4 linked regions of the Homo sapiens genome follow. The protein of the gene in region 3 purifies or fractionates together with the protein of the main gene of each other region. This does not show direct contact. Each region holds a gene or a part of one and is shown on either strand. Other genes may lie near its edges.

Evidence for each region.
Region 1: the proteins of PPP1R9B (region 3) and WDR48 purify together in Homo sapiens (affinity purification with mass spectrometry; 3 studies listed by BioGRID and IntAct, with this or other methods). This does not show direct contact.
Region 2: the proteins of PPP1R9B (region 3) and SNX33 purify together in Homo sapiens (affinity purification with mass spectrometry; 2 studies listed by BioGRID and IntAct, with this or other methods). This does not show direct contact.
Region 4: the proteins of PPP1R9B (region 3) and MCM10 purify together in Homo sapiens (affinity purification with mass spectrometry, with the first as the bait; 2 studies listed by BioGRID). This does not show direct contact.

Annotation. Positions count from the first base shown.
Region 1 is NC_000003.12:39,082,884-39,090,176, forward strand, and holds part of WDR48 (WD repeat-containing protein 48), read left to right. Parts: intron 1-1,271; coding exon 1,272-1,379; intron 1,380-1,761; coding exon 1,762-1,858; intron 1,859-2,631; coding exon 2,632-2,727; intron 2,728-3,417; exon of another isoform or gene 3,418-3,501; intron 3,502-5,244; coding exon 5,245-5,350; intron 5,351-6,347; coding exon 6,348-6,435; intron 6,436-7,293. UniProt on the Homo sapiens protein: Regulator of deubiquitinating complexes, which acts as a strong activator of USP1, USP12 and USP46. Enhances the USP1-mediated deubiquitination of FANCD2; USP1 being almost inactive by itself.
Region 2 is NC_000015.10:75,650,897-75,658,189, reverse strand, and holds part of SNX33 (sorting nexin-33), read right to left. Parts: intron 1,229-7,293; coding exon 975-1,228; 3' UTR 1-974. UniProt on the Homo sapiens protein: Plays a role in the reorganization of the cytoskeleton, endocytosis and cellular vesicle trafficking via its interactions with membranes, WASL, DNM1 and DNM2. Acts both during interphase and at the end of mitotic cell divisions.
Region 3 is NC_000017.11:50,140,678-50,147,677, reverse strand, and holds part of PPP1R9B (neurabin-2), read left to right. Parts: intron 1-2,432; coding exon 2,433-2,565; intron 2,566-3,959; coding exon 3,960-4,080; intron 4,081-6,304; coding exon 6,305-6,409; intron 6,410-7,000. UniProt on the Homo sapiens protein: Seems to act as a scaffold protein in multiple signaling pathways. Modulates excitatory synaptic transmission and dendritic spine morphology. Binds to actin filaments (F-actin) and shows cross-linking activity. Binds along the sides of the F-actin.
Region 4 is NC_000010.11:13,164,380-13,171,672, reverse strand, and holds part of MCM10 (protein MCM10 homolog), read right to left. Parts: intron 752-7,293; coding exon 410-751; intron 1-409. UniProt on the Homo sapiens protein: Acts as a replication initiation factor that brings together the MCM2-7 helicase and the DNA polymerase alpha/primase complex in order to initiate DNA replication. Additionally, plays a role in preventing DNA damage during replication.

The sequences.
Region 1 (7,293 bases), on a different chromosome or scaffold from region 3:
TCAGAGTTTCCAAGGGACATATGTAGACTGAGAAGAAACTAAGTCATCAGTCTTTCAGGGATGTTGGGAAAAGAGGAAGCCACAATAGTATATGATTTTAAAAAGTTGCGGGGGAGTAAGAAAATGAAGAGCCAGTGGCAGCTCCAGAACTAATTGAGTGTTTCAAGAAGAAGCTTGCGGTTAGTGGCATTAACCTGCTGTGAGTTGATTTAAGATGTGACTAACATCATGGATTTAAATAAAGAGGGTGGCCTCTGGGTAGAGTCTTAAGGGCAAAAGCCAGGTAGAGTGAGTTGAGTAGTGATTTGAAGGTGAAGAAACAGAAAATTTGACTGGATAATCTTTGAAGAAATTTGATTGGAGGGGTAGGCAGGAAGCGGCGGAAACTAGAGAAGATGTAGGAGTCAGAGGGCCAAAGGAAGCTTTTGATTTTGTTTGGTTTTGTTTGGATATTTGGGTATTTTTCAGATGTAAGAAATTTGAGCATATTTCATTGCTCCTGGGAAGAAGCCAGTAGAGACATTCATGGGTAGATGACAATACAAGGTCATCCCAAGAAGCAAGAGGTGAGGGGGACCGGAGCACAGTCAGAAGGGACACCGTTTTCCTTGCACCAGGGAGAATGATAGAGAAAGTTAAGGGGATTCTGTCAAGGCTTCTCTTTGTTTTGAGAAAAAGGAATCAGAGTCATGTGCTGAGGATAATGGGGAAGGTGGCAAGGTCAGAGGTAGAAGAGAGATTTAGTTGAGATGGACTGCAAGACAGTGACCCCAGGGCTCAAGTCTCCAGTAAATGAGGGAGAGTGGCAGGTTGCTAGATGGCAGTGAAGGAAAGGTGTACCGTTTACTGTTGCTAAATGACATAGGCCTCAGAGAAATAAGTTTTTACATGGGAGATGGTAGAGTAATGGTCTCCATGGAGCATCAAGGAACAATGGGATGTGGGAAAATAAGCAGTCCCCCTTTGAGAAGATGGCCGACAACTGGGACCCTCGAAAGAGCCACGTTGCTGTTAAGATGAGGTGGTATATTATATCAATATCAGCACAATTAAATACAGTTTCTTCCCAAATACTATTTTGTGCTTTTTTAATTTAAATTTTTTATAGCAGCAGATTGTTATTTTAAAAAAGGACCACATTCTTTTTGAAATGTATTTTAGACTGTTTCACTTAGACACATGTGAAAATATGTAAAATTTTGAATAGCAAAGTCAGAATCAAGTGAATTCACCACTTAATATTGATCATTATACTTTCTTTTGATGTATAGGCATGTAAAGTTGAAGATCTGGGCAAAGTGGATTTTGAAGATGAAATTAAGAAAAGATTTAAAATGGTGTATGTGCCAAATTGGTTCTCAGTAGACTTAAAAACAGGGGTAAGTTAGCAATTGATACTTGTATGATTTGGGATAATTGAAGATTTTCATTATAGCTTATAATTATTATTAGTTACAGAGTCCTGTGTTTTTAGGTGTGAAAAAAAAAATTTGTGTTAAAACTTAAAATGCAAAATGGAATAAAAAAGAAAAAAACAAAATTAAAAATATATTAAAAAAGAAAAAAATTTAAAAGTTACAAAATGCCTTTGGTATCCCAGGAAACTAAATTGTGTTGTTGCATTGAATCACACAAAACACATTTTGGTTCCTGAATTTATGACTTAGCACTTTAGTCAAATAGTACAAATAAATGAAGGTTTAGAGACTTGTTTGGAGAATATATTCAAATGGGATGCCACTAAGTTTTTTCTTTTGATAGATGTTAACTATTACTTTGGATGAAAGTGATTGTTTTGCTGCCTGGGTTTCTGCAAAAGATGCTGGTTTCAGCAGCCCTGATGGGTCAGATCCAAAATGTGAGTTTAAGTGTCCTTCATTTTTTTCCTCCCTTCTAAAGAGAAGATGAATATGAGCTGTTTTTTGCTAAGTACTTATCTTTGTAAAAGTTCTCTATATTTTGTTGACTATGTCCTAAAAATGTGGTATGTACAAATACCTAATGTATACAAATCATTTTAGTAATTTCATATGGAAATAGCCGTTTAAAGAATCTGATTCTCGGCCAGGCGCAGTGGCTCACACCTGTAATCTCAGCACTTTGGGAGGCCGAGGCGGGTGGATCACGAGGTCAGGGGATCGAGACCATCCTGGCTAACACGGTGAAACCCCGTCTCTACTAAAAATACAAAAAATTAGCCGGGCGTGGTGGCGGGTGCCTGTAGTCCCAGCTATTCGGGAGGCTGAGGCAGGAGAATGGCGTGAACCCGGGAGGCGGAGCTTGCAGTGAGCCGAGATTGCACCACTGCGCTCCAGCCTGGGTGACAGAGCGAGACTCTATCTCAAAAAAAAAAAAAATCTGATTCTCATGTTTGTTTTTAAATAATAGCTGTATCTGAACAACCAAGTAGAATATGTCTTTGCTCCATAGCATCATTGCTTTAAACATTCTAAGATAAAATTTTAGCAGAATTGGCAAAATGACTAAAGTCTTTATTTTAGACATCATTCGCATTGGGTTAAGAATGTAACATCAGAATATGTACAAACTTACAATTTTTATTCTATTTTTAGGTTAAAGCCAAGTAACTCGCTTTTCCATTTTATCTCTTTTTAATTAACTTTTTTGCAGTGAATTTAGGAGGACTTTTACTCCAAGCACTCCTGGAATATTGGCCTAGAACACATGTGAATCCAATGGATGAAGAGGAAAATGAAGTAAACCATGGTTAGTTTTTATATTCAGATAGTTGCATAAAAAGTTAGAGGTACTTACTTAAAAGGTACTTACTAAAAGGTACTTACTTAAACCGTTAGCTAAAATATTTGTGGTGTACTCAGTTTATTGTCCTCTCTTCCATATCTCAAAGTAGGAACATCCATCCAGTCTTAACTGAGACTGAGATTCCAAAAGAGCAGACCACCTTATGATATGGCTTTTAGTGAGACTGCTCAAGATAAATAAAATACTCTATATTCAGATGACTTTTGTCTTAAAATGAGGCACCTTAACAGACTTATTTCCAAAATATTCTTCAAGGTACCTCTGATCTTTTGGATTAACCTCCAAAGCTAGGTAGTTAGCTGCATCAGAAAGCCAGGTTTGTCATTGCATAGTCACTCTTCATGTTGGGCTGAAATGTTGGTATTTCCTAGTCTCATGGCCTACCTGATTTTGACTCTGTTTCAAAAAAAAATTCAAATTCCAACTCAGAAGTGACAGGGCATATGCTCAAGCATGTGTAAAGAATTAATGTCACTGAGGACATCTGAAACGTGTGTGTGCCATAGGCAGTGGCAGTAACGTTCCCTGAGCAGCAGAGGAGAACATGTTTTGAATATATGCATTTGGCTCAGTTTGATCAAAGGAAGGGGAAACAAGAACTTAGAATTTCACATCCTCATGTGTAACCTACAGCTGGTTGAGGAATCATTGAGTCCCATCGACTGAGGCTTACTCTGCTGAAGATTCTCTGCTGGCCACCAGGAGTGAGCAACAATGGCGAGTACCTCCTGCCAGGGACTTTGTTCTGGCTGTCAGATTCACCCATAATGATATGTGGAATTTAAATCTCTCACATGAGGATGACATGCTTCCTTGAAAACCAGTCTTCTGATGTTCCTGTCAGAGAGAGGGTGCTGTTGCCCCACCCATGGTGGCTTTTCTTTTACATCACCTGACACACTTTGATCCCTGTCAGAATTGTACAGTGGACTTTGAGCTAAAGAAACTGATGGAAAAATCTTTCCACAGAGGGTCAAGAAAGCTAGGTTCTGGGGTGGGCTCTGCTGCTTAACAGCTATGTTGCTGTGGGCAAATCATTTCCAGTTAGATGGGATACTCTCAGCCACCCAAATAAGCAATAAGGATTAAGTTATCAAAACAGTGGTATAGTCATGCACCCTTTGGATCTAGGCTTTGGGTGAGGAGTATAAGGAAGACATCACCAGAAATCACGTCATCCTTAACATCAGACTGCATGGGAAAGGTAGGGCAGGGCATGGCTACTTCCTCATCCAGAGCTCAGACCACAGCACCTGCAGCATACTCAGTGGACACTCTGGAGTTGTTCAGATGGTGCTTGGTGAGCAGCTCTACTATTCAGGGGCCCTTACCAAGTTTCAGGTGGGGGTACTAAAGACACATGGGTATGGTCCCTGTCCTTCAGGAGCTGATGTTCTGGTATGGCAGAGAGTTACTTATGGAAAGCATTCTGAGATAGAAGGGTGCTAGGAGAGAGGTTCCACAAATGCTATAGGATTTCAGGGGGTCAGATGCTTCCAGTTTGATGAGGAAAGTGTCATGAATGAATTGGCACTTGAGTTGGTATCACCCACCTGTGCTGGGTCAAAAGTTTATGAAGAAAGCAGAATGGAGCTAGGCGTGATGGCTCACACCTGTAATCCCAGTGCTTTGGGAGGCCTCTAATATTTGTTGACAGTGATTTTGACGTCTGTGCTTGTTGGGTCATTTACTACTTGATGGCTTATGTTTAGGCTGCCCTGCCCAGCAGCCTTGAACCCAGGAGTTTGAAACCATGCTGGGCGATATAGCAAGATCCTGTCCCTACAAGAAATGTAAACAATTAGCCAGTTGTGGTGGTGTGTGCCTATAGTTCCAGCTACTCAGGAGGCTGAGGTGGGAGGATCACTTGAGCCAGGGGAGGTTGAGGCCGCAATGATCTGTGATCACACCACTGCACTCCAGCCTGGGCAACAGAATGAGACCCCGTCTCAAAGAAAAAACAACAGTGGAAAGGAAATCTGCAGAGAACAATAAAAGCAAAATTGTGGACTCCTTGAGGATTTTTTCACAAATGCTTCTGTCTTTAGTTATGGCTGCCATTAAATGTAATTTTTTTTTCCTCAAGAAATTTTTCTGAGCTTGGTGTTCTACAAAAAACAAAAACAAAAAAACTCTAGATCTTCGTTTATATACAGGCTGTCCTAGACTTCCTTGTGGCTGAAGTAGCTGGTTATGTTTTTGTTCTGAATCTCAAACATTAATCTCTTTTATTAAAATCCTCTAAAATACAGTCATTTTTTCCATGAAATAGACCACAAGTTGCTGTGTTTCTTATTTTCAGAAATTTAACTTGTTTTTAACCTTTATTTCTAACTCTGGTGGACTTAGAGGACATTTGAATTTAATCTTGCAATGTTTGAAGCTTGTGGGAGTAAAATGTTTAGAATCTGTATTTTTAGCACTAACTCTGATATTAACACCACCTGCATCTTTTCCTAGTAAATGGGGAGCAGGAGAACCGAGTGCAGAAGGGAAATGGATATTTTCAAGTGCCCCCACATACACCCGTGATCTTTGGTGAAGCTGGAGGTCGCACACTGTTCAGGTATGGGTAAGAAAGACAAGAGGTTCTGCCTGAGAAGGTATCCCATTTGCTAAGAAGTGTCGACTCAAACTCAGTATTTCGATATTAGAAATAGTTTATTATTAAATTCTAGGGATGCCAGGGATTGGAAGCATCCCATGTCCATGAGATAGTGAAATGTCTGCTGCTGTTAGACCACATTCTAATTGGGAGGAGAAACTCTAGTGTTCGAATGAGGTAGAATACTTTGCCTCGAAGCAGCTTCTCTATTGGTTTCTGTAGGTAATTCTCACTTTCCTTCACTTTGCCCGTGTGACTGCAAGGGCCAAGCAACAGATGATACCACTAGAATTCCCTGCCCACAGAAGAGCTTCAGAGTACATTACATTACTTTTCTTAGGCTGATCCAGCCAAGATGAGCTGGGCTGCTCCTGGGAACTGTTGAGGCTGACACTGACACTGCCTGGGGTGCCAGACAGTTATGTGTGGGGCCCTTCAGGGAAGGGCTGGACTGGTTCACCTCCAAGTTGCTAGCAAGGTCCTGGTAGAGCCGGGGGAGAGCTTACTAGTCTATAGGTGCCAGAAGAAAGAAAGAATAAGACATGCTTGTCTTATTCTTGAGTGCAGGATTATCTATCTTTCTGATAGTTTCCTGAGTGGTTACCAGAAATATTCTGACTTCCACTGTGTGTGAAAGTCTCTGCCATGCACTGTGGCACTAGCTGGGGACCTTTACTGGGTGCTTTGCTTGCACCCAGGTTTCCTGTCATCACCCAAGGACTCCAAGAAGCAGCTGTAGTGTATGCCTGGCCTTGGAATCTGGGGGCCTGATTTTAGGGCCTGCTTTCCCTTTTAGCTGAGTGAGTCATTCTTCCAGGCTGTACTTTTATTTCCTCAGCTGTCAAGTGGGGGTTATCCTACATGAAAACCATGAGGGTTCCTCCCGCTAATATTTGTTGACAGTGATTTTGACATCTGTGCTTGTTGGGTTACTTACTACTTGATGGTTTATGTTTAGGCTGCTCTGCCGAGATTCCGGGGGTGAGACTGAGTCTATGCTTCTTAATGAAACAGTGCCACAATGGGTAATTGACATCACTGTGGATGTAAGTATCCTCCACTCCCACTTTGCTCTTTTATTTTTTTGTAACTCATGAAATTAAGAACTGCTTTAGACATTATAATTTTAAACCTTAATAAAAGCTAGACTCCCAAGTGGAATCCCCATCTGCTTCCTTGCAGTTCCAAAGTTGCAGAAATAGTACTGATAATTATTTATCTATCTAGCTTTGTTGGTTTTTAATTATAAAAATAATATATGCTTATTCAACAAAATAATAAATGAATGAAGCTCTCATCTTCCCCAAGCATTCATTCTTGCCCATTCACTCCCTATCCTTCCTCCCAGAGGTAACAACTATTAATAAATTAATGCATAGCCTTCAGTACTTTTTTCTTTGCATACAAGCATATATTATTTGTGTACATAGATGTGTCTACAGTTCATTTTATATTGCACAAAATCTCTTATACTGTTCTGCAACTTTTTTTTCACCTAAAAAAATGTATCCTGGACATCTTTTCATGTCTGTACATCTTTTCATGTCTGTACATGTGAATCATTCCTTTTTAATGACTGTGTAAGATTCTACTGTATAAATGTACCATAATTTATTTAATCAGTCCCCTATTAATGGACATTTAGGTTGTTTCCAATGTTTTCTATTACAAATAGTGCTGCAGTGAACATCCTTGTACATATATCTTTGTGTGCTTTTTAGGATAAATTCCTAGAAGTGGAATTGCTGGATCCAAGGTTATGCACATTTTAAATTTTGATAGATACTGCCAAATTGCCCTCCACAAAGGCTGTAGTAGTCTACATTCTCACCAACAGTGTATGAGTGCCCATTTCCCCACACCTGCACCAACACTGGATACTTCTAATCTTTGCTAAAAAATAG
Region 2 (7,293 bases), on a different chromosome or scaffold from region 3:
AGAGTCTTCTCCAGGAAGGTGTCACCAGGGATCTGGGGCCCAGGGCTTATACCTCAGCACCTTGAGTCCGAGGAGGGGAGGATGCTGCAATGGTCCCCTGCCCGAGATAAGCTGAGGGCCCAAAAGTGGAGGGGAGTCAGAGGCCTACAGGAGGGAGATGGCCTGTAGCCCCCTCCTGCAGGGGACAGGGTGATGTACGGACAGCCAGCAACATGGGAGCAAGGGAGATCCCTTCCTACCACACAGGCCAGAATCCCCATGGAAAGCGTACCTAACTTGCTTGGAAAGTAAGGGAGAGAAGAGGGAGATGTTTGCATGCCTCCATAACTTTGCCCATGCTGTTCCTCTCCCCTGAAAGTCCTTCTCCCCCATGTACTGTCTGGCAGGCCCTTGTCATTCTTCAAAACACTGCCCAAATGTTGCCTACTCTATGGAGTCTTCCCTGACCAGTGGAATGCTGTGGTCCCTTCTATGAGCTTCCAGAAATCCCTCACTTAAACATCAGTCATACTGCATTGACTCTGTCTGTGTCTGACCCCGACCTTCACTGAGGACTCCTGAAGAGCAGGCATGTCACAGCCCTGGGTGCCCAGCATCCGACCCAAGGGTGCAGCAGGCCTCGGTGTCTGCTGAATGGATAAGGCAGCAGTGGCCAGGTGAGCAAGCAAAATAGGCTCTAGGGGAGGCTGAGACCCTGGCCTGACCTTCACTGACTGACCGGCAGCCCAGGCCTTGGCCTCGAGGGCTCCTGACTCTATTCTCACCCCTGCTGTGCCCCACTTCTAAGGAGTGGGGAATTTCCCAGGGGCACCCATGACTCCTTGAAAGCTCCTTCTCCCAGGAGGCAGGACAGGCCGCTTATCTCCCCCACCGCTGACCCCTCCCCCAGTCACTGCTGGTATAGGGAGGTCGGGAAAGTGGGGTACACTGCAGTGACCAGGCCCAGGGGAAGGAGGGGGCCCAGGCACACGCGGTCAGAGGTTGTCATACATGCGCAGGGTCTTCTCCAGCTGCTGGCCCACCCGCTGGTAGAAGAGGATCTGCTGGCGCAAGTAGTTCTGCATCATGTGCTTGAAGTCGAGCTCACGGCGCTGGTGGAAGTGGTTCATCTCGGCCTGCAGGGCGAAACCCACCACGCGGCAGCGCCTGCGAATGCCGTCTGCCTCGTCCTGCACCATGCGGCCCTCGTCACTCATGCGTTGGCTCTCCTTCACCTTGGCGAAGGCGCCTGGCATAGGCAGAGCAGAGGACAGCGTGTGAGGGCTCTGATCTCCATGTGCTCCCTGTACCCTTGAGGGCAGACAGCACCCTCATCAGCTCAACTCGGACGTCATTCCTGAGCCCCAGACCCACATTCCAGCCACCTGGGTGTCTCTGCCAGGATGTTACCCAAGCCATCACCCTCAGCACCTCCTAAACCAAGCACATCATCTTCTCTCCAAATGTGCAGTGCCACCAGTAGCCCACATGTGACCAGTCACAGCCCTGCTTGATGGACTATGAATTCAATGAGGATAGAGCCTGTCCTCAACCTCTCTGTGTCTCTGGTACCCAGAACAAGGCCTGGCCCACAGCAGATCCTGATATAGGCCTGCTGAACTGATTCAACCCTGTCCCTCACTGGACTGCTACAACAGCCCCGCCACGTCTCCCTGCCCTCCGCCCCAGCCTCTGACAGGTTCTCTGCAGCATCTAAAGAGGTATCCCAAGCTGGGCACCTTTCCTAGCTCTCCACTACCTACAGATCAAGGTCCACACCAATCTGCCTGGCCTGGGGGGCCCTCACCTCTGGGAGTTGGCCCCTGCACGCATTCCACACTGACCCCCATGTTCGTCAAACTCACCTGGCTCTTTCCTACCTTCCTACCTCTGCCCCCTGGATTCCTATTCATAATTCATGGCCCCGATCAGGTGCCACTTCTACACTGGAGCCTCTCCCAGTTCCCCTGACAGAATGTCTCTCCCATGTCACCTGTGCCCTGGCTCCCCACCCCCACCCCCATCACACTGCTGATTCTAAAACAACTCTTCAAAGGCCACCTGGTGTATCTCCCAGACATGCACGCCCTGTTCCCTCCTCATCCCAGCCCCCAGGGAACTCGAGGAGGTTGTGTAATAACCAGGTGACAGATGGGGGGTGGAGATGAACCTGGGCAGAGGACCCAATTTAGAAGAATCTGAATGAATGAACAAGCAGCTGGTGAATGAATTTCAGTTCTGAATTAAAAGGGACTTGACGAATTCTGCCTTTAAGCCAGTGGGGACAGTTGCTGGGAAGAGAAGGAAGTTTGCCTGTGCCTGGCACTCAGTCGCCGAGGGCTGCAGAGAATCCACCATACAAAGAAGATTAGGAGCAGGGAAGGGTTGGCATAGAGGACAGCACACCCCTGAGCACTGCAAACGCACCCACTACACACAGATAGCATGCTCAATACCCATGCTTTCCCACTTCTCCTTTAAGGAGGGCTCTTGAGGGCTGTCTAGATAATATTCTCTTCACTCCCTGGCTCAAATTGTCCAGTGCATTCTAAATGCATTCATTGAGCACTTACTGTATATCAGGCCCAGGGCTCTACATGCTGGGAATAACTCTGGATGCCTTTAGAAGGGGCAACATCCATGTTAGTTGATAAGTGCATGGCTAATCGGCTAATAGTAGCATTTCAGGCAAACAGACTCAAGTTCAGAGAGTCTCCAGGGCTGCTCACACAGCGCCCAAAAGAAATCTGCATTCCCCAGCTCCCAGCCCACTCAGTCCTTCTGCCACCTTCCCTGGACCACCTCCTGCACCATCTCAACAGCCCAGCCCTGGGCAGCAGAAGGGGGATCACCCCAAGGCCCAGGATAGGACCCAGTAAGAGACTTCAGAGCTAGAAAGGCCCAAAAGATCAGGTGTCCAACCCTCGATTCCACCTCCATCCTACTACTGTACAGAGGAGGCCAAGGCCCTGAGGGGCAGGAACTTGCCCAGGACTCCCAGCCTCTTTCCTGCCTGGTCCTCCACAGCTGGGGGTCGGACACCACTTCTGCTGCAGGGAGCCCATGCCAGGTCCTTCAGGCATATGTGTGGGGCCCCCAGACGTTGGACACAGGGATTCAAGAAGGTCCCAAGGAGTAGGAAGAACCGTAAGAAGAAAGGTAGAAAACAGCAGGGTGAAGAAACTGGAGTTAAACTTCCGCAGAAGGAACCTAGCTAAAGAGGAGATACTGAACTAGCCTGGATTCCACCTGCCGAGAAAGTTGGCACAGTGGAAGTGCATCTATAGACTTTTCCTGTCCATGGCCTTAGAGGAAGGAAAGGCCTCTTTTGCTGATGAGGAGCCCAAAGAGTAAGAATGAACCCATTGCAATGGTTAGGTATCCACAGACAGGCAGGAGGCCAGGGATGGGGAGCAAAGGCTGCAGAGGTCGGGGGGAAACAGAGGCCCCACCCTGTTCTCCGTTACCCCTCCACCCTGTGACTCAGCTCTGGGGCCAGGACCAGCTAATGCTAATGCACCCCACCCCACAGGCTGGGAGTCAGGGCTCAGGCCTGTCCAGCATCCCCCCGACATTCTACTTAAGACTTAACCTGAGAGCTGAGGACCCAGGGGGACCTCCTGCCTCAGCACTCCTCTTACAGGCTGGGTCCCAAAAATGCAGAAAGGAGGGTTGGAGCCCACCAGCTGCAAGTCCCAGGGATATTCCCTAAGCTCCCACCTCAATCCATCTTGCCCCTGCCTCTTGGAGACAGTTAACATCCACCCCAGGTTGGGGGCAGGAGGGAGCAGGAGGTCTGAGTCCTAGTCCTAGCTGTATCCTCTCCAGCAAGCCACTGCTCTTGCCTGGGCTCCAGGTCTCCCCACTGCCCAGTGGGACAGGTTGCACTAGATGTGATGCTGTTGACAACCTCTCACACGGTATAGTGCTTTAAGGAGTTTCCACATCTGTAAAATGGGATAATAATAGTACCTGCCCTATAGTATAGTTGAGGCTTAACTGAACTAATATGTACACAGTTCAAAGGAGCGCACCTGAGATACAATAGAAGCTCCAGATGCTACATGTTATGGCTTGAAAACTGCTTTTCTTTTCTTTTTTTTTTTTTTTTTTAATTTGAGATGGAGTCTTGTTCTGCTGCCCAAGCTGGAGTGCAGTGGCTTGATCTCGGCTCACTGCAACCTCCGCCTGCTGGGTTCAAGCAATTCTTCTGCCTCAGCCTTCCAAGTAGCTGGGATTACAGGCACCTGCCACCATGCCTGGCTATTTTTTTGTATTTTTAGTAGAGACAGGGTTTCACTATGTTAGCCAGGCTGGTGTCGAACTCCTGTGATCCGCCCACTTCGGCCTCCCAAAGTGCTGAGATTACAGGATGAGCGGTAGAGGGAAGGCTAGATGATGGCTCAGAACCCAGAGGCTGAACCCACCCATCCCCCAGGCAAGAACTTGTCCCTACAGTCGCCACTTTGCCTTGGCCACGCTGTCCCTATGGCCCCTCCATGGAAGCTCTGTGGTCCTGGGCCTCTCTCTAGCCCACAGGACCAGTGAAGGAGCACCCAAGCCTTCCTCCCTCCTCTTTCGCCTTCTGGCTCAGCTCTCCATCCCTGGGGATCCCCTCCCCCATCTGGGAGGGCACAGTGGAAACAGCCTGGGCTGCGGAGCCAGACACACTGGACTCCAGCTCCTGCTCTGAGGCTCATCTGCATCGCTGCACCTCGTCTGTAAAACGGAAGTGACCACATCGCCCTCCTGACCTGTCGTGAGCCTTAGGACCAGCCCCGCTCTTGCTGGCTGTCAAGTTGGGGGTCCATACGTCCCAGCTTGCCCTGGACAGTTACTTTCCCCTGTTGTCCCGGGATCACTATTGCTAGGGCCCCCTTTTATGCCCCAAACTGCCCTGGTTAATTATATGGTTACCCTTCTCTTAGGAGACCCCTGGATTGGGCTACAGGGACTAGGCCCGTGGGAGGACCAGGCTCCTCTCAGCTCCAGCCAGGGTTTATGTCCCATTTTATTTCATTTTATTATTTTTCTGAAAAGCATACAAATTTGTTTAATGTAAGTTTCACATGACATGGAGCCCTCCTAAGGAAATGAAGACCCTCGGGTCCCATTTTACTCACCTAGAGACTGAGGGGAGAAATCTCTCCCAAAGTCATGTCAGATGCAAAGTTTGTCCAAATCCTGGTCTCCTGACTCCCACCTAGGCCTCCACTGTCCTTCCTCCCACACACTCACCACCCATTCAGATGTCCAGACAGGCTGGACAGAATCCTGGGGGCCCAGGACCCAACTGTTCTTCTCTTTTCTTTGAGAAGGGCTCCACCCCTAAGGCCAGCATTAGGACCCCCTCCTTATCACTCCCATTGGGCTGTGGTCCCCAAAGCCTGTCCAGTTCTGTCTCAGTACCCCCTCCCTAACTTGCCCCACACCACAGGCCTGGGAGGAGCAGTGCAGAGCCCAGAACTTAGAGTAAGCCAGAGAGGGCTTGGCCCATTGGGAGGGGTCCTCCCGGGGAGGGAAGGCAGTGGGCTGGCCTCTGTTTCAGGTCAAATGCACCAGCACAGAGGACAGTGGCCTCTGACTCTTAGAAACACCTCAAGTAGAAACTCAGAAATGGCCTATCTCAGCTCTGTCTCTCTGCCCAGGGTCAGAAAGGCTGGTCTGGCTTCCCCCCAGCCTGGGAGGCCCTGGTGTCCTTCCTAGGTGTGGGGCTGCCCTAATGTCCTCAGCTCTGCTCTGGGTGGGGGGTCCCCAGCCACTGCATGGGAGCATCTGTTTAATCATTGCATTCCCCCTCCTGCTGCCTGCACAGGAACAAGCCATCTAAGGAGCTGGTTGAACCAGCCTTCCCACTTGTGCTCAGGGAGACACCTGCCCCAGTGGGCCCCCAGCAGGCCTGGCCACCTCCCCTGCCCTACTCCTGCCCCAGTGCTCAGAGCCAGAGCTAAGGTGTCATTCTGTTTCTGAGCCATACCCTCCCCAGGAGTCCCTTCCCACCCACTCCCTTGAAGGCCTGATGGCTCACTGGGACCCCATTCCCTTGTTTTACAGATCAGGAAACTAAGGCCCAGAGGGGCAAAGGCACTCCCCGGGGACGCACAGCAATCTAGGGGCAGAGCCAAGACTAGCACTCAGGTTTGTGTTTCCTGGAGTTCAGAGGAGGAGGAAGAAAGGTAGAGATGAGAGAAAAAAAAAAAAAAACAGAAAGAAAGGAAGAGGAAGAGGATATAGCAAGGGGAGAAAGGAGGCTGGGAGCTGGAGAAGTTATAGAAGTCAACCTCTTGGTAAAGGAAAGCAAGGCCAGCTTACCCCAGGCCCTCCCTGGTGGTGGTGGGTGACATGTTTCCTGTTCCCCAGGCTCAGTGCAGAGGTCTGCCCCCTGGCCCCACCCAGAGTCAAACTCCCCACCAAGCCAGGTCTAACCTCAGGGCCCAAGGGCCAGGGAGCCAGCTCCACGCCCTGCAGACGAGTTACCAAGCAGCCCCAGGGAGGATCACACCTCTCTCCTGACATCTGCCCTCCCAGCTGTGCCCAGGACTCAGGCACCTGCTGGGGCAGCCACTGGCTCTCTCCTCAGGCAAGAAGAGAAGCCAGGCTTGGGAAGCAGGAGTTGGATAGGCCATGTGGACAGTGCCCTGGACCCCTGATTCTGCACCCCTGGCCCAGCCAGAGTGCCCCTGTGTGACCCAGGATGAGTCATTTCCCCGGCAGTTCATGGACAGCCCCAGCAGTAACAGGCAGAGGCCCATCCTGTCCCTCCCCCACAGAGGGGGTCATGAGAACTGAAAACATGGCTAGGCTTGGGAAGTGGCCAACATGGACGTGTCCTTGGGGAGGTGGCAGGAGGAAGGGACAGTCCCAGCCGGGCCACAGGCTGTGCAACCACTCTTCTGTGGACACTAGCTCCTTCATCTGCAAAATGGGGACAGGGATCTTCCTGCACACAGACAAGACGCTCATAAAGAGAATACACAGTGGTGAGAGTAGCTTCCAAAGCTGCAAAGGTGGGGAGGTTAACTTGCAAGGAGCACAAGACAGGCCCCCACTCTGAGCTCTTGTTATCTGGGTTGGGTCTGTGTCTCCCAAGGGCCTACCGGCTCCTCAAGGGCAAGGCCTGGGGCCTGGTCATCTATGTGTTCTCAGAACCCAGCATGACACCATGCATGATGGGTAAACGAGATGCAAACAGAGAAAATGAATGAACTGACAAGAAGGTAAATATCAAGCTCCATGAGGACAGAGACCGGGCCTGTGCACAACAATATCCCTGCACCTAGAAGCACATTTGCCACAGACACAGAGTTGATATTC
Region 3 (7,000 bases):
AGTTTGGATCCCCCCACCCCACCCCCACTAATTTTGCGAGAAGTCCGATTCCCTCAGAGTTGGAGTTTGGTCTGGGCCTCTGACTGTCTATATTTGACGCCTTACCCTGATTTTTCAGTAAAAAATAGCACATGATTTGGAGCAGTGCTTCCCGGCTCCCTGGTGACTTTGGAGCTGGCCCGCCCTGTGTGAGAGCCAGCGTGTGTGGCGGGCCCAGTGTGGCTGGCTTTCAGCCTCACTGGGGATTTCCTCCTCCCCACCCTGGCACAGGGGCCCCACTTTTTCTTCTTCCTGCCCCTGCCTTGATGCCAAGTCCAGGGTCCCGGTCCCCATGGATGACCCAATTGTTGCCCTTCTGGAGGTGGAGGCCTCTGCTGAGGGCAGAGAACCCAATTCCAGCTTGGCCTCAGGGAGGTGGGACCTCCCCTAGGGCCCTCTGCTAGACCGGCATATCATGGTGGGCAGCCCGAGGAGGGGTAGGAGGTGGTCTGGGGCCTCTGAGCCCAGGCCTGGGATTCCTGCAGGCGGCAGGACCAGAAAGGGAACAGGATTTGATAGGCTGAGAGAAGAGGGCAGGGTGCAGCCCAGGACAGGCTGTGAGGTGTGTTTTGGAGGTCACAGCGGGCGTGTGTGTCCATGTGTGTCAGGGAGGGGTTTCGTTGACTCAGGAGACTGTAGAGACTCAATGATGAAGGGACCGTGTCTCCTAGAGCAGAGGGTGAGAGTCAGGGGACTCCAGTGCAAAGTGGGCCAAATCCCACTGCTGAGTCCAGGCTCACATCAGCCCTGTCCCAGAGCCTGGGGCATGTGTGCAGTGGAAACCAAGTCACCGGTGACCCACCCACCTGTCCCAGCTGGGTGCAGTCTCATTCTGCCTGGCCACAGTTTAACCCATGTGACCTTGGGCAGTGGGCCTGGTGCCCTGGACTATGTGCAAGGTAGGCAGCCTGTTTGTTCGAGGGGTGCAATGGACAGATGAGCTTTAAGGGCTGGAGCCAGAGTTTCTCTGATGCTGTGAAATTGAGGGCATTGAGCTAAGTGACCAGAGGGGTCCCTCCCACCTAAGCCTTCTAGTCCTATGAGCACCCCCTCCCTCTCCCACTGTGGCAGTGAGCCTCTCTGGTAGGGGGTGGGGACGACACGGAGCAAACCCAGACAAAGGCTGGGACACGAGAGTGCTGCTGCCCACCAGGGTGCCCACAAGGTCTGCTCCTGGAGGAGACGGGCCCTGACAAGGGCCCTTGGGGGAGATGGGGTCCTAGTCTGACTCCTCGGGGCTCAGACTCAGCCAACTGATAGAGCTGTTCCCCATCCCTCCCCGCCCCCGCCTGGCTCCAAGTGGTGCCAACCTGTCACTGCAGGCGATGAAGCTTGAGCATGTCATGGTACCCCAAATGGTGCTCATTAACCTCCCACTGGGGGCACCCCTGCCTGGGCCCAGAATTAGACATTCCCACAGAGCCCAGCCCCACCTTCTCTGTCCTTCTGAGGGAGTCAGAGCTGAGGAATTCCTCTTTTTGCTGAGAGACATTGGAGAGAGACAACAGAGGGGTACAGGAGATGCCAAGGCAGGGGTGGCCTCGGAGCCCCATGGCGCCTGGGTTCGCTGTGGGCAGTGTCAGAGGCTGTCCCCTCCTCAGTCTCCTGGGCCCCCTAGCACATGGACAGGGGGCGTAACTTAGAGAGCTGCAGTTGTGGAGGGAGAGCGGCCTGGGTGTGCAGGGAAGGCCAGGCCCAGCTTTTTCCCCTGCTTCTGCCACCCGAGGGGCTCCTGGGGATGGAGGGCCTGCCTCTTCTCCACGGGGATAGAGATGGTCTTTCCTGCTTCCCTCCCCTGCTCCAACATCCACTTGAGCGGCAAGTCAGAGCCAGTCCTGGGTACCTCTCCCCTTCCACCCCTCCTGCTCCCCTCCTCCTCTTCTGTCTCACACCCGCTCCCCCCTCTCTCCCCATCTGGCATTCTCCAGCATCTTCTCCATCCTCTCTCCCCTCCTCCTCTTCCCCTCTTCTGCTCAGCCTGTTCCTTCCTCTCTGTGTCTGTCTTTGTGTCCCCTCTCGCCTGTCTGGCTCTCTGGGTCCTATCTCTCACTTTCCCTCTATCTGGGTGTCTGGGTTCCTGAGTTGGACGTTTCTCCAGGATTCCCCTTCTGTGCCTATGGCAGACCATGCTCACGCTGGTTGGAGCTACAGAGAGAATAGCAGTGCGGGTCTGCCAAGGCTGGGTCCCTTTCTGTCTTGACCCTGGGCTCCAGAACTATAAGGGCCTTTGTTTTGCTCAGAGCTGGGGTCTCAGGGGACTGGGTGAGGCCTCATCTCAGGGCTATCATGGGGAGGCATGGGGTGGGTAACTCAGCCTGCCTCCTCGGCCTCCTCATGCCAGTTCTGCACTTGTCCTCCTGCCGGCCTCTCTGACCAGCTGCCTCCCTCCCCAGGTGTTCAGCACTTACTCCAACGAGGATTACGATCGTCGCAACGAGGATGTGGATCCCATGGCAGCCTCTGCTGAGTACGAGCTGGAGAAGCGTGTGGAGAGGTTGGAGCTGTTCCCTGTGGAGCTGGAGAAGGGTGAGAGGCCAGGAGGCCACGTCACTTGCGCACAGCTGGGGTTGACCCGGGTCTCATCTCTGGCACCAGCTCCTGCCCTGTGCCCTCAGGGGCTCCCACAGACTTGCTGGGCCTCTCCCTCTGACTCAGGCCCTTGGTGACCTTCCCCGCTCCTCCCTTGTCAGCACCCAGAGCAAACAGGGCCTCCAACCCAGGCCAAGCCACACCCCCACCACCCCGGTCATGGAACCACATTTGCACATTCAGTTAACAGGTCTCTGTAGGGTACTGTGTGCTAGGTCCTGGGCTCTGTGTTGGGGACACAGTGGTGGGCTCCTGGGGAGATGGATGGGGGAGGCAGACATGGAAGGCACAGTCACATCTAATCTCACCCTTAGGCGCTGGAATAGGGGCTGGGGAAGGTAAGGAGGGGCCACTGTAAAAGCGTTTAACAGGTGACCTAACCAGACTGTGCTTGGGGGCATTCTCCAGGGAAGTGAAGCTTGAGTTGCACTCTGGTGAGGAGGAATTAGGGGAGTAGTCAGGAAAGGGGCTTGGCTGCATTTGCATAGGGAGGGCAAGAAGAGCATGCAAATGAGGCCTTGCAGACCACGTGGTCTTGTTGCTAAGATGGATTGGGAGCCATTTCGAAGCACAGGAAAGGTCTAGAAAGACCACACCAGGCTGTGATGTAGGGAGGGGGTCACAAGTGGATGGAGAAAGGCCACTGTGGCGTGGACAGGAAGATGGCAGAGCGGGTGTGGGTGGACTGGAAAGATCTCCAGGGGTAGAATCCATAGCATCTGGGGGTCATTTGGCTCAGGTGGAGGCTGTGAGTGGGAGGGAGGAATCCAGGTGCCTCCCAGGTCTGGCAGGTGGCAGGTGGTGGTACCATCCCCCATGAGGGAGTGTTTGTGGGGGAAGGTCATTAGTTGGGACATCAGAGGGCCATGAGTCAGGCAGGGGCAGGTGTGGATAGGGGAATGGACCTCAGGGGAGAGAAAATCTGGAGGTCTTTGGTCCTTGAAGCTATGAGTACAGATGAGACTGGCTGAGAGGGAGAAGACCAAAGGCTTAGGGCTGAGTCCCATCCTGGCTACCCCCATCCTGGCTACCCCCATCCTGGCCACACGCCCTGGTCTGCATATGCAACAGTCTTACCTGCCTGTGCCACCCTTGGCACGCTCTTCTGCCCATTGGTTCTTTGGAAGGGACAAAGGGCAGGGAGCGGCTCAGGAGCCATCCTAGTAGACTTGGCAAAGACGGTGGACAGAACTATATCCCTTCTTCAGTTGTGGGACATCCCCTAATGGGGACTGCTTCCTGATGGGGGGGCTGTGCCCTGGAATTCGGGGTGGAGAGTCTCTCGTCTGTCCCCTACAAGCCCTGCCATCTCACCACTCTCTGTTCCACAGACTCCGAGGGCCTGGGCATCAGCATCATCGGCATGGGCGCCGGGGCAGACATGGGCCTGGAGAAGCTGGGTATCTTCGTCAAGACCGTGACGGAGGGTGGTGCGGCCCATCGGGATGGCAGGTACCAATCCTCCCCAGTCTCGCCTGACCCTTTTTCCCTCTCCGACCGGCCATCCTTGGTGGGGTGGGCCACTGAGCAGGGGGTGGGGCGGGCCTTCCCTGGGAGATTTCCGTGCTGTGTGTGCAGCTGAGATGTTCGGGGAGCACTGCCATGCCAGGTGCTGTTCCAGGCCCCAGAAATACAACAGTGAGCACTGTCAGCCCCTATGCCCTGAAGGAGCGTGTGTTCTCCAGGAGGGGCTGGTGACCATGGGGGCTATAGGCGTGTGTTGTGCATCCCGGTCTGGAGTACAGTTTGGGCCCTGGTAGGGAGAAGACAGGCATGGAGTATATTTGAGCTTTTTTTTCGCTGGACATTGAGTCTCTGACAGTGTTGGGCCGGTGCTGGGCCCTGGGAAGTCAATGGTGAGGGCCTGGCGCACTTGAGAAGTGTGCAGTGTGGTGTGAGGTAGACATTGAATAAATGGACACACAAAAGGTAGTGAAATGGAGGGAAATGCAGACTGCTGTGAAGGCATACAACAGGAGGGTTTAATCTCTCTGGGCATTAGGGAAGGCTTCCTGGAGGAAGCAGTGCTGGAGCTGAGAGCTAAGGCTGGAGCAGGAGTTAGCTGTGCTGAGGGAGTGAGTGCAGAGGTTCCAGGCAGTGGCGCCATGAGCAGGCAGGTGTGGCTGGGGCATAGAGAGCAGGGGCCAGGAGGCTGTGACTAGACCCATTGATGGCAGTGGCTCTGGAGACAGGCTGTCTTTGCGCATGTGAGTGTGTGTGCCTGTATTGAGCATCTGTGGTTGCAAGGGGTGAGTTCTGTGGGACAGAAGGTTCAGGGAGGGCATCCTGGAGCTGTGTGCCAGCCAGGGACCCCTGTGTTAGCTGTGTATTCCAGGGGTGTGGGGAGTGGCAGTAGGAAGGGCTGTAGGGCATCCCCCAGGGTGGCTGTAAGTTAGAGGTGACATTGGGGATCTCTTGTGGTGGTACCTCCAAACCCAGACCCCCTCCATGTGACAGAGGTGAGCAGGTGTCCTTTGGGATCTGGGTGACTTTGGGATCTTGTTTCTAGAGATGGGGCTGCCCTGTCAAGGGGCTTCTACCTGTTGTGGCCCAGGTGGCATGGAGAGGGGCCGGGAACAGGATACCCTTTCATTTACCCCTTCCCCTCCCAATGTGAACTTCCAGAGCCTTTCCCATTGTTGCCTGTGGGTTGTCTAAGGAGTGAGTGTGCATGGTGGCCGTGGCCACTCACTCATGCCCACCTGGGAGTGGCATGTGTTGGGGTGAGCTGTTGACAATAGGCCATTTCCTCCATTTCCGTGTGGGAGTCCTGAGAGAAGGCCTGGAGCTCCCAGGGAGGTGGAGTGGAGGAGGGAGGTGTCTGAGAGGCCCCCCACCCTCCATCTCCCTCAGCAGGCCAGACTGAACCTCCCCTTGTATGGAGAACACGGGCTTCAGGGGACACAACTGGAGTGTGTCGGCAGGTGCACCTGTATCAGGTGTGTGTGGGACAGTGTGTGAACTCGAGAGAGTGCCATTCGGTCTTGGGGACTTGGGAGGACATCTGTGCACTCAGTTCTGTGCAGAAATGTACACGTAAGAGGGTGGCATGTCACTTGTGTGCTGTGGGGCTCCTGGCCAGTGTGCATGGCAGAGATGAACTCTGAGAATGTCACACCGCTCAGTCAAGTATGATGAAGGAGGGGACAAGAGTGTGATTGTCACAGGAAGTGTGCCTGCCGCGTCTCCTGGTCCTGGACGCCTGTGTCTGCTTTGCTTGCCTGGCTCTCACTGCCCACACAGGTGGGCCTGGCTGACACTTAATCCTCTGGCCTTGTGAATGTTACGCAGGTAGACAAAGTACCAGGTCCCTGTGAGGACAAAGTATCTGTGAGGTTTTTTGTTGTTGTTTTCTTTTCTTGTTTTTTTTTGTTTTTTTTTTTTTTTGAGGCAGGGTCTTACTCTGTTGCCCAGGCTGGAGTGCAGTGGCGCAAACACAGCTCACTGCAGCCTTGACCTCCCTGGCTCAAGTGATCCTCCCACTTCATCCTCCCAAGTAACTGGGACTACAGGCACGTGCCACCATGCCCAGCTAATTTTTCTTTTTATTGTTTGTAGAGATGAGTTCTCACTATGTACTCAGGCTGGGGAGCCTGGAGTTTCTGATGGGAGGAGGCTACCTCTACCCTCGCTCCTCGGTTCCCCTGTGACCCCTTAACCAATGTCACTCCGCTAGGATCCAGGTGAATGATCTCCTGGTGGAGGTGGATGGAACAAGTCTGGTGGGAGTGACCCAGAGCTTCGCGGCGTCTGTGCTCCGGAACACCAAGGGCCGAGTGCGGTGAGAGCCCAGAGGGGTGGGGCGTGGGAGCGGGCAGGAGGTCCTCGTCCAGGCACTCCGTTCACCTGCCTTAACAGCCAGTTAAGGTTCTGGTGGCCCAGCTCACAGAGGTTCTGCTGACTCCTTGGCTGCAGGAGTTGCTGTGCCTGGAGTCCCTCGCCTCACACCTGCCTTCTCATCCCAGCTCCCTGGCAACAGCTGGCCACCAGTACTCAGCCTTCCTGGCCCACTGTCCACCAGCCCTCCAAACTGTCCTCTAGGGCTTCTTCTCCTTCCCCCTACCTGTCCCTGACTCACTGACTGAAGAACCAGGACGTCCAGGGTGAATGCTAACCATATTGGGGTCCCCTCATTGGGACCTCATGCCCCCCACCCCGACCAGCCCTATGTCATCCTGGGAAGACTCCGCCCCAGGCCTGTAACCAAGGGGACTGGATCAGAAGCTCCCTGTGTCCACTCTACCTTTGGCTTAACATTCAGGGATCACTCCCTGCCCCCCTGCAAGAGGGGTACTACCCCCAGGAAAGGGTGGTGGAGAGAAACAGGATGTGGGTGGCCACCGGGAGGAGGGGCTGGTGCCTGGAAGTTCCA
Region 4 (7,293 bases), on a different chromosome or scaffold from region 3:
TTAAACATGTATGAGATGCCAGGAATGAGAAAAGAACATGTGTCAAAGCTTCTGTTCAGGAATGCTCTGCTCAAATAGATATGTGGCAGCTTTGCAACCTTGTCTCTGGCTCCACATCCACATACATCCCAAAGTGCTACTATTCCATAAGAAATATGAAAAGTTTCAGAGCCATTCCGTACAGGATCAAGTGCAGCTGGCTGACACTGATAGAGTCTATAGTTTGTGCTGAAATGCTGGCCCAAACATTTCATCTACCAACTCATATAATTTTCTTTCTTTTTTTCTTTTTTTACAAAGTCATTTATCTCTACCCTTGAATCAGCAGCTATTTTGATGACAACTATCAGATTGGTGGTCTTCATCCAACTTATCCGAAAGAAATAAGGAAGGCAAGTAGTTAGGGCACCTTGCAACTCTTCATTCGTTTTCTCTCGCCTGGGGGCAGGAGCAGGGAGGACCCTATTTTCAGTTGACTGTGATGCGGGAACTTCTTCTTCATCTGTTAAGTCCTCCATATCTCCAAAGAGAGTGGCCAGATTTTCCTTTTCGTCTCTTGTCTCTCCTGTTTCTCCATCATCAGCCTCTTCTGTATAAGATTCACCGTCGCCGTCGGCATCAAAGAGCTCATCAAATGCGTCGGGCTCGCCATTTTCCCGCGTCAAGAAGTTATTTTCTTCTGAATTACAATCCAAGGCTGACTCATTTTCTTCCAGCAGTGCGGTCAGCAGAGACAGATTGTCTTCCTCCTCTAGGGGAAAAGAAGAGAAAGGACAGAGAATAAGCACGGCTAATTCCAAACATTCAACTTTAGGCAATTTAAATGACCCCATGGGGGTAAGAGAAACTACCTAATGGGTACAATGCTCATTACCTGGGTGATGGGTTCAACCATACTCCAAACCTCAGCATCACACTATATATACATCTCTGTAACAAGCCTGAATCTAAAATGAAAGCTGAAACTAAAAAAACAAACAAACAAACAAACAAAAAAAACAAAAACCTACAGATGCACCATTTTGCCTGGTCTTTGTTCTCCTTGTCTCCATCTTTCTTGTCCCCAGGTGCTTCTTAGGGGACACTGGGCTAAGAAGGAGCCAATACTGCTTAGTGAGTAGAGTGGGCCAGCCACGGGGCCAAATGTCCTCAAGCATTCTACTCCAATCAATGAGACAGCTTCCCGCACACCGACTTCCATGAAATTCAACCAACAAGGGAATAATTTTAAAACACCAAACATAGATTTAGGCTTTAGATGTATATAATTCCTGACCTTCAAATTATTTGAGATTTAAAAAAAAAAAGATACAAACTATATAAAAAATACTAAGATCCCATCACCCAGAATTAGCCATCATTAACATTTTGTTGTTTGCTTCTTGCCTTTAACATTAAATAACACCTTCCAGATGAAGTCTGTCATGCCAAATCTTATCCCAACTCCTGACCACTGCCCCCACTTCCCATTGTAATCACTTTCATAATTTTGAGGCATCATTCCAGTCCATTCTTATGCTTTTACATAAATATATAGGCAGTCATAGTCAATCTATATTAGATGGTTTTAAAAATATTTACATAAATATTCCACACTGCATTACTCTGCATTCCAGGTTCATTCAACATTGCTTGTAAGATTAACCCAAATCAAAACATATAGTTCTAGCCAGGCGTGGTGGCTCACGCCTGTAATCCCAGCACTTGGGGAGGCCAAGGCAGGAGGATCACCTGACATCAGGAGCTCAAGACCAGCCTGGCCAAGAAAGTGAAACCCCGTCTCTACTAATAATACAAAAATTAGCTGGGCGTGGTGGCCCGTGCCTGTAATCCCAGCTATTCAGGAGGCTGAGGCAGAAGAATTGATGGAACCTGGGAGGTGGAGGTTGCAGTGAGCCGAGATCGCACCACTGCACTCCAGCCTGGGTGACAGGGCGAGACTCCATCTCAAAAACAAACAAAAAACCCCATATAGTTCTAGTTTCTTTCTTTTCGTTGCTATATTGTATCCTATAATAAGACTGTATCACACCTCATTAATCCATTTTCCAATAAAGGACAATATGGGCTATTTCTAATTTTTCCCCACTACTAAATACGCTGTAATCGTGTATCCGTCTTCTCGCACATGTGTTTCTTGGGAATATCTATCAGAAATGGAATTGCTGGATTGCTGGGTATCCACGTTTTCCAATTTTGCTAGATGCTGCCAAATTGTTCTCAAAGTGGATGCACTCTTGAAATGGCATAGTTCGTCTGGGGTAATACCTGAGGTTCGTTGTCTCATGCAAAGGAAATCAAGGATGCTGACACACAAGGAGTGAGGTTAAGTGCAGAGATTTAATAGGCAAAAGAAAGAGAAGAGCTCTCGGCAGCAGAGAGGTCCCAGAGAAATGGGTTGCCGCGTCCATGGCAAAATGCATGGGGTTTCATAGACGAGCTTGAGGACGCAATGTCTGATTTACACAGGACATAAAAGATTGGCTGGACTAGGTATGCCATTTGCATAGGGTGGAAAACCTGGCTGCCCCACCCTAATCTTTTATTATGCAGGTGGTTCTCTACCTGGCCAGCGCCATATTGTCTGTTTCTTTACTGTACACGTGGTTGACACAGAAAAAGGGCCGCCATGTTGAACACGCCTGGCCCCCAGGGAGCCTTTTCCTATTGGCACAGCTGCAGGTATTCATCCGTGCAAATTACTAGCTTGCTTTTCTATGTCCGCTTGATTTTTCTGGCTGGCCTTGTTAGAAATTACTTGGGGGCTGCTTTTTGCTAAAAGGGAAATTCTGCTGAGGACTCTGTTGCCCTTACTATCTCCCTAAATAATTGCTATCATCTGTATCACTCTCACTAGAGCTGTACACAAGGGCCACTTCTCCCCACCACCTCATCAATATCTGATGTGTCACTTAAATATTTTTTTGTCAATCTGATGGACGATTTAAAAAGGCATCTCACTGTTTTGATTTGCATTTCTTGGATTACTGGTGAGGTTAAGAATTGTTTGTTTATTTGCCAATCGGATTTCTTCTTTCTTGATTTATCTATTTTCTTTGCTCTTTTTTCCCCCCTATTTGGGCACTATTTGTTTATAAAATCAGAGGTATTCAATGGAAAAATATTAAGGATATCTGACCTACTCTCCTTGTCTGAAATTCAGGGGCTAGAGTATGAGAGGGTGAGGGGCTTGTTCAGGATCACATGGAGAAACAGATCAGTTCAGGAGCTGGGTTAATAAGGAATCTCTAGATCAGCAAACCAATATCCTTTCCACCACTCTACACTCCCTTACCAGAAGGAAAAAGCCAGTAGCCAAACTTCAGGCCTAGAATCTGATGATGGGGCCTAATGCTCAGTCAGAGGTTGTATAAGGATTAGCTTGAGTTGCTTAGTCCACAAAGACTCCAAGGCTGCACAGTGCAAGAGAGAAGAGGCCAGGCAGCCCCCTGTGCTCTGAGAATGTCACATGCCTGCAAGGAAGCAAAGAGGCCTCCACCATCTCTTGTTCCCGTCTGCCAAAGAGGGCACACCCCGGGAAGAGGCTCTGGCTCACACCACTGGGGGCCACAGGTGGAAAATGCTGCCTGGGGACCCCATACTATTCACTTTGAACCCTTCACAAGAGAACGAGGGCTAATCCCATGGTGCCTCACAACCCCGTTTACCTCAGTCACCACCAAAAATCATGTCTTCTCTGTATTACGCTGACTCAATCTCCCAGCCTCTTTGTTCTCAAACCCCTGGGATGTGAAATCTACTATCAGCACGTTTCTCGGATCCCCAGTGGCTCTTACAACAGAAATCTGGCTACCCCTGGAAGCCTCTTGAATGGAAAGCATTTAATTGTTCACACCTCACATGGCAATGTCTAGAATAGTGTTCGGCACGTATTAGGCATGCAACAAATACTTGTTGATCAACTTCAGGTTCCTGATGTCTTCTTTATCACTGTCACTTTGGAATGATTCAGTCTTTTTCCAGATCACAGCTCTCTGAAGTTCAAGACACCAGACGCTGGCATCAAGAACCCCTCATGGCACTGTCATGTGCTGATCATCATATGTGTATCATGCATGCCCCCCCCGGTCCTCCCCTCCATCTCTACTGTTATCACCCTCCTGGGGCACTTCAACCTCCGCAAGGATGATCCAGCCAACATCTTGGTCGCTGGGTTTCTCATCCACTCCCCATCTTAGCTACCCACTCCCATAGTAACTCCAACTCATCACAGCAAAGCACAACTGACCTCTGAACGTCCCTCTGTGATCCAACCTCCCATCCTTTCAGCCCGCTCACTCTAGTATTCACATCCAGCAGCTCTTCAGCTTCATCCACATGTCTAACCCATCAGCCTACCTACAATGTGTTTCCTGTCCATCACCCCCTGCCCCTAATGCCCTCCCTGTGGATCCATGTTCAACACCATCATCACTCACTGCCTTCTAAAGACTCAGCTCCCTGGCTGGTGAATGGTCCTGGAGAAAGACTCGCTACCATGCTGACTGGTCTTTTTTGTTTGTTTATTTATTTATTTATTTTTCAAGACAGGGTCACACAGGCTGGAGTGCAGTGTTGCAATCTTAGCTCACTATAGCCTCAAACTCCTGGGCTCAAGCGATCCTCTTGCCTTAGCCTCCCAAGCAGCAGGGACTAGAGGTGCACACCACCATGCCCAGCTTATTAAATATTTTTTTGTAGAAATGGGGTCTTGCCATGTTGCCCAGTCTCGTCTTGAACTCCTGGCCTCAAGCGATGCTCCTGCCTTGGCTTCCTAAAGTGCTGGGACTACAGGTATGATCAACAAGACCCTGCCTCAGTCTAACTTTAAATTTTTGCACACCCATAACAAACAAGCATTCAGCACTGCTTAAAGATTCCCACACTTCCTCAATTCATTCGCTTTCCCAGGCTCTGACCACTTCACACTGTCTCTCCTCAAACCTCCTATGCCCACTCCCCACTCTTTACTCTTAGCTGATGATATATATATATATATATATATATATATGTATGTATGTATTTTTTTTTTTTTTTGAGACAGAGTTTTGCTCTTGTTGCCCAGGCTGGAGTGCAATGGCACGATCTCGGCTCACTGCAACCTTCACCTCCCAGGTTCAAGTGATTCTCCTGCCTCAGCCTCCCGAGTAGCTGGGATTACAGGCATGTGCCACCACGCCCAGCTAATTTTGTATTTTCAGTAGAGATGGGGTTTCTCCATGTTGGTCAGGCTGGTCTCGAACTCCTGACCTCAGGTGATCCACCTGCCTTGGCCTTTCAACGTGCTGGGATTACAGGCGTGAGCCACAGCGCCCAGCCCTTGGCTTATATTTTACAGAAAAAATAGATGTAATCAGACTTCCTCATCCTTCACTCCCAACTCTGAACGTATCTTCTCTGCTTTCCCTCCTGGGACTAAGTATCTAGTGCTATTCACAGCCAATTCTTCCACTTACATTCTTACATTGGGTCCCACTTCTCAGCTTCTCAAAGACTTCATTCTACAATTACCACCTCTCTGGCTCCTGAATCCCCAGTTTCTCCCTCTCCTCTGAAGCACTCCTGTCAGCATACAAAGACATAGCAGTGTCTCCCATCTACTAACTACCCGTTTATTGTTTTGTTATCTTTCTCCCTCCACTAAAATATAAGCAGGAACATTGTTCAACAGTATATCCCAAGTACCATACAGTCTCCGATTTCCTCTACACCGGCCAAATTGTGAACCCATGCCAATCAAATGAGATTTTCTTACTAAATATTATGATTTCTTTTTCCTCTTTTTTTTTTTTTTTTTCAGATGGAGTCTTGCTCTGTCACCCAGGCTGGAGGTGCAGTAGTGGGATCTCGATGCAATGCAACCTCTGCCTCCCAGATTCAAGTGATCCTCCAGCCTCAGCCTCCTGAGTAGCTGGGATTACAGTCACATGCCACCACACCAGGTTAATTTTTGTAGTTTTAGTAGAAATGGGGTTTCACTATGTTAGCCGGGCTGGCCTCGAACTCCTGACCTCAGGTGATCCACCCACCTTGGCCTCCCAAAGTGCTGGGATTACAGGCATGAGCCACCGCACCCAGCCTAAACATTATGATTTCTTCTTTCTTGACCTATACTGTTTCCAGATAGATACTATGATTTCTTAGAGAACAGGTATCCATTCACCTCTTATTTTCATGTCAATCTGATAGCAAAAAGTGATGCTTTGTATTATATAACCTGCCCTGTAGGCAATTTGCCAATTTTAAGAAACAGGAAACTACCATGATAGCATCAGGCAATGAGTTTCACATAAGGAATAACCCCTTATCTGAGGGTTTATTTTCTGTGGTTTTGATTTTCCATGGTCACTGTGGTTGAGGACAGTACAATGGATATTTTGAGAGTGCAATAGATACTTTAGAGAGAGACCACATTCACATAACTTTTATTACAGTATATTGTCATAATTGTTCCATTTTATTATTGTTGTTCATCTCTCACTGTGCCTAATTCATAAATTATACTTTATCACACGTATGTATGTACAGGAAAAAACACAGCATGCCTAGGGTTTGGTACCATCCTGGGTTTCAGGCATCTGCTGGGAGTGTGGAAACACATCTCTCAGGGACAACGGGGGTCCACTGTGCATCACAGTGTGAGGAATTTCAAGTTTTGTTTTAAAGGGCAAAGTGTAATATGTTTGAATTTTTTAAAAAAACCCAGTTTCAGATTATGAGTTCAATTATGCAACTAGATCTCTTCACAACCAGCACAATCATTTTAATTTTTTAAAAATAGAAATGAGGTCTCACTCTATTGCCCAGGCTGGTCTTGAACTCTTGGGCTCAAGCAATCCTCCCACCCCGGCCTCCCAAAGTGTTGAGATCACAGGCGTGAGCCACTGCGTCCAGCCCAGCACAATCATTTTAGGTGATCGCTAATTAGTGCAACATCTCTTTTCTAGGTAAACATTTTGTACACATCCTTGCAAAATGAACAAAATTAGAAAGGATGATATTAATAAAAACTTAAGTCAGAGCTAGACTAATATCGCTTCAGCAGATTTCATTATCAAATGTAAACTCTGAAGTCAGACTGCCTGGTTCAAAGCCCTGCTATGCCAGCTTGAACTGTGACAAGTTACTAAACATCCCTGTTTTTCTGCCTATAAAATACGTTTGCCTGAGGACTGAATCAGTTAATTTCCACAAGGATCTTGGAGCAGTGCCTGGCCCACTGTACACCTACCAGCTATTGTAATTATGAAAGACAATCTCTGTTGCCAGAAGAAATCTCCCCTGATAAAAGCA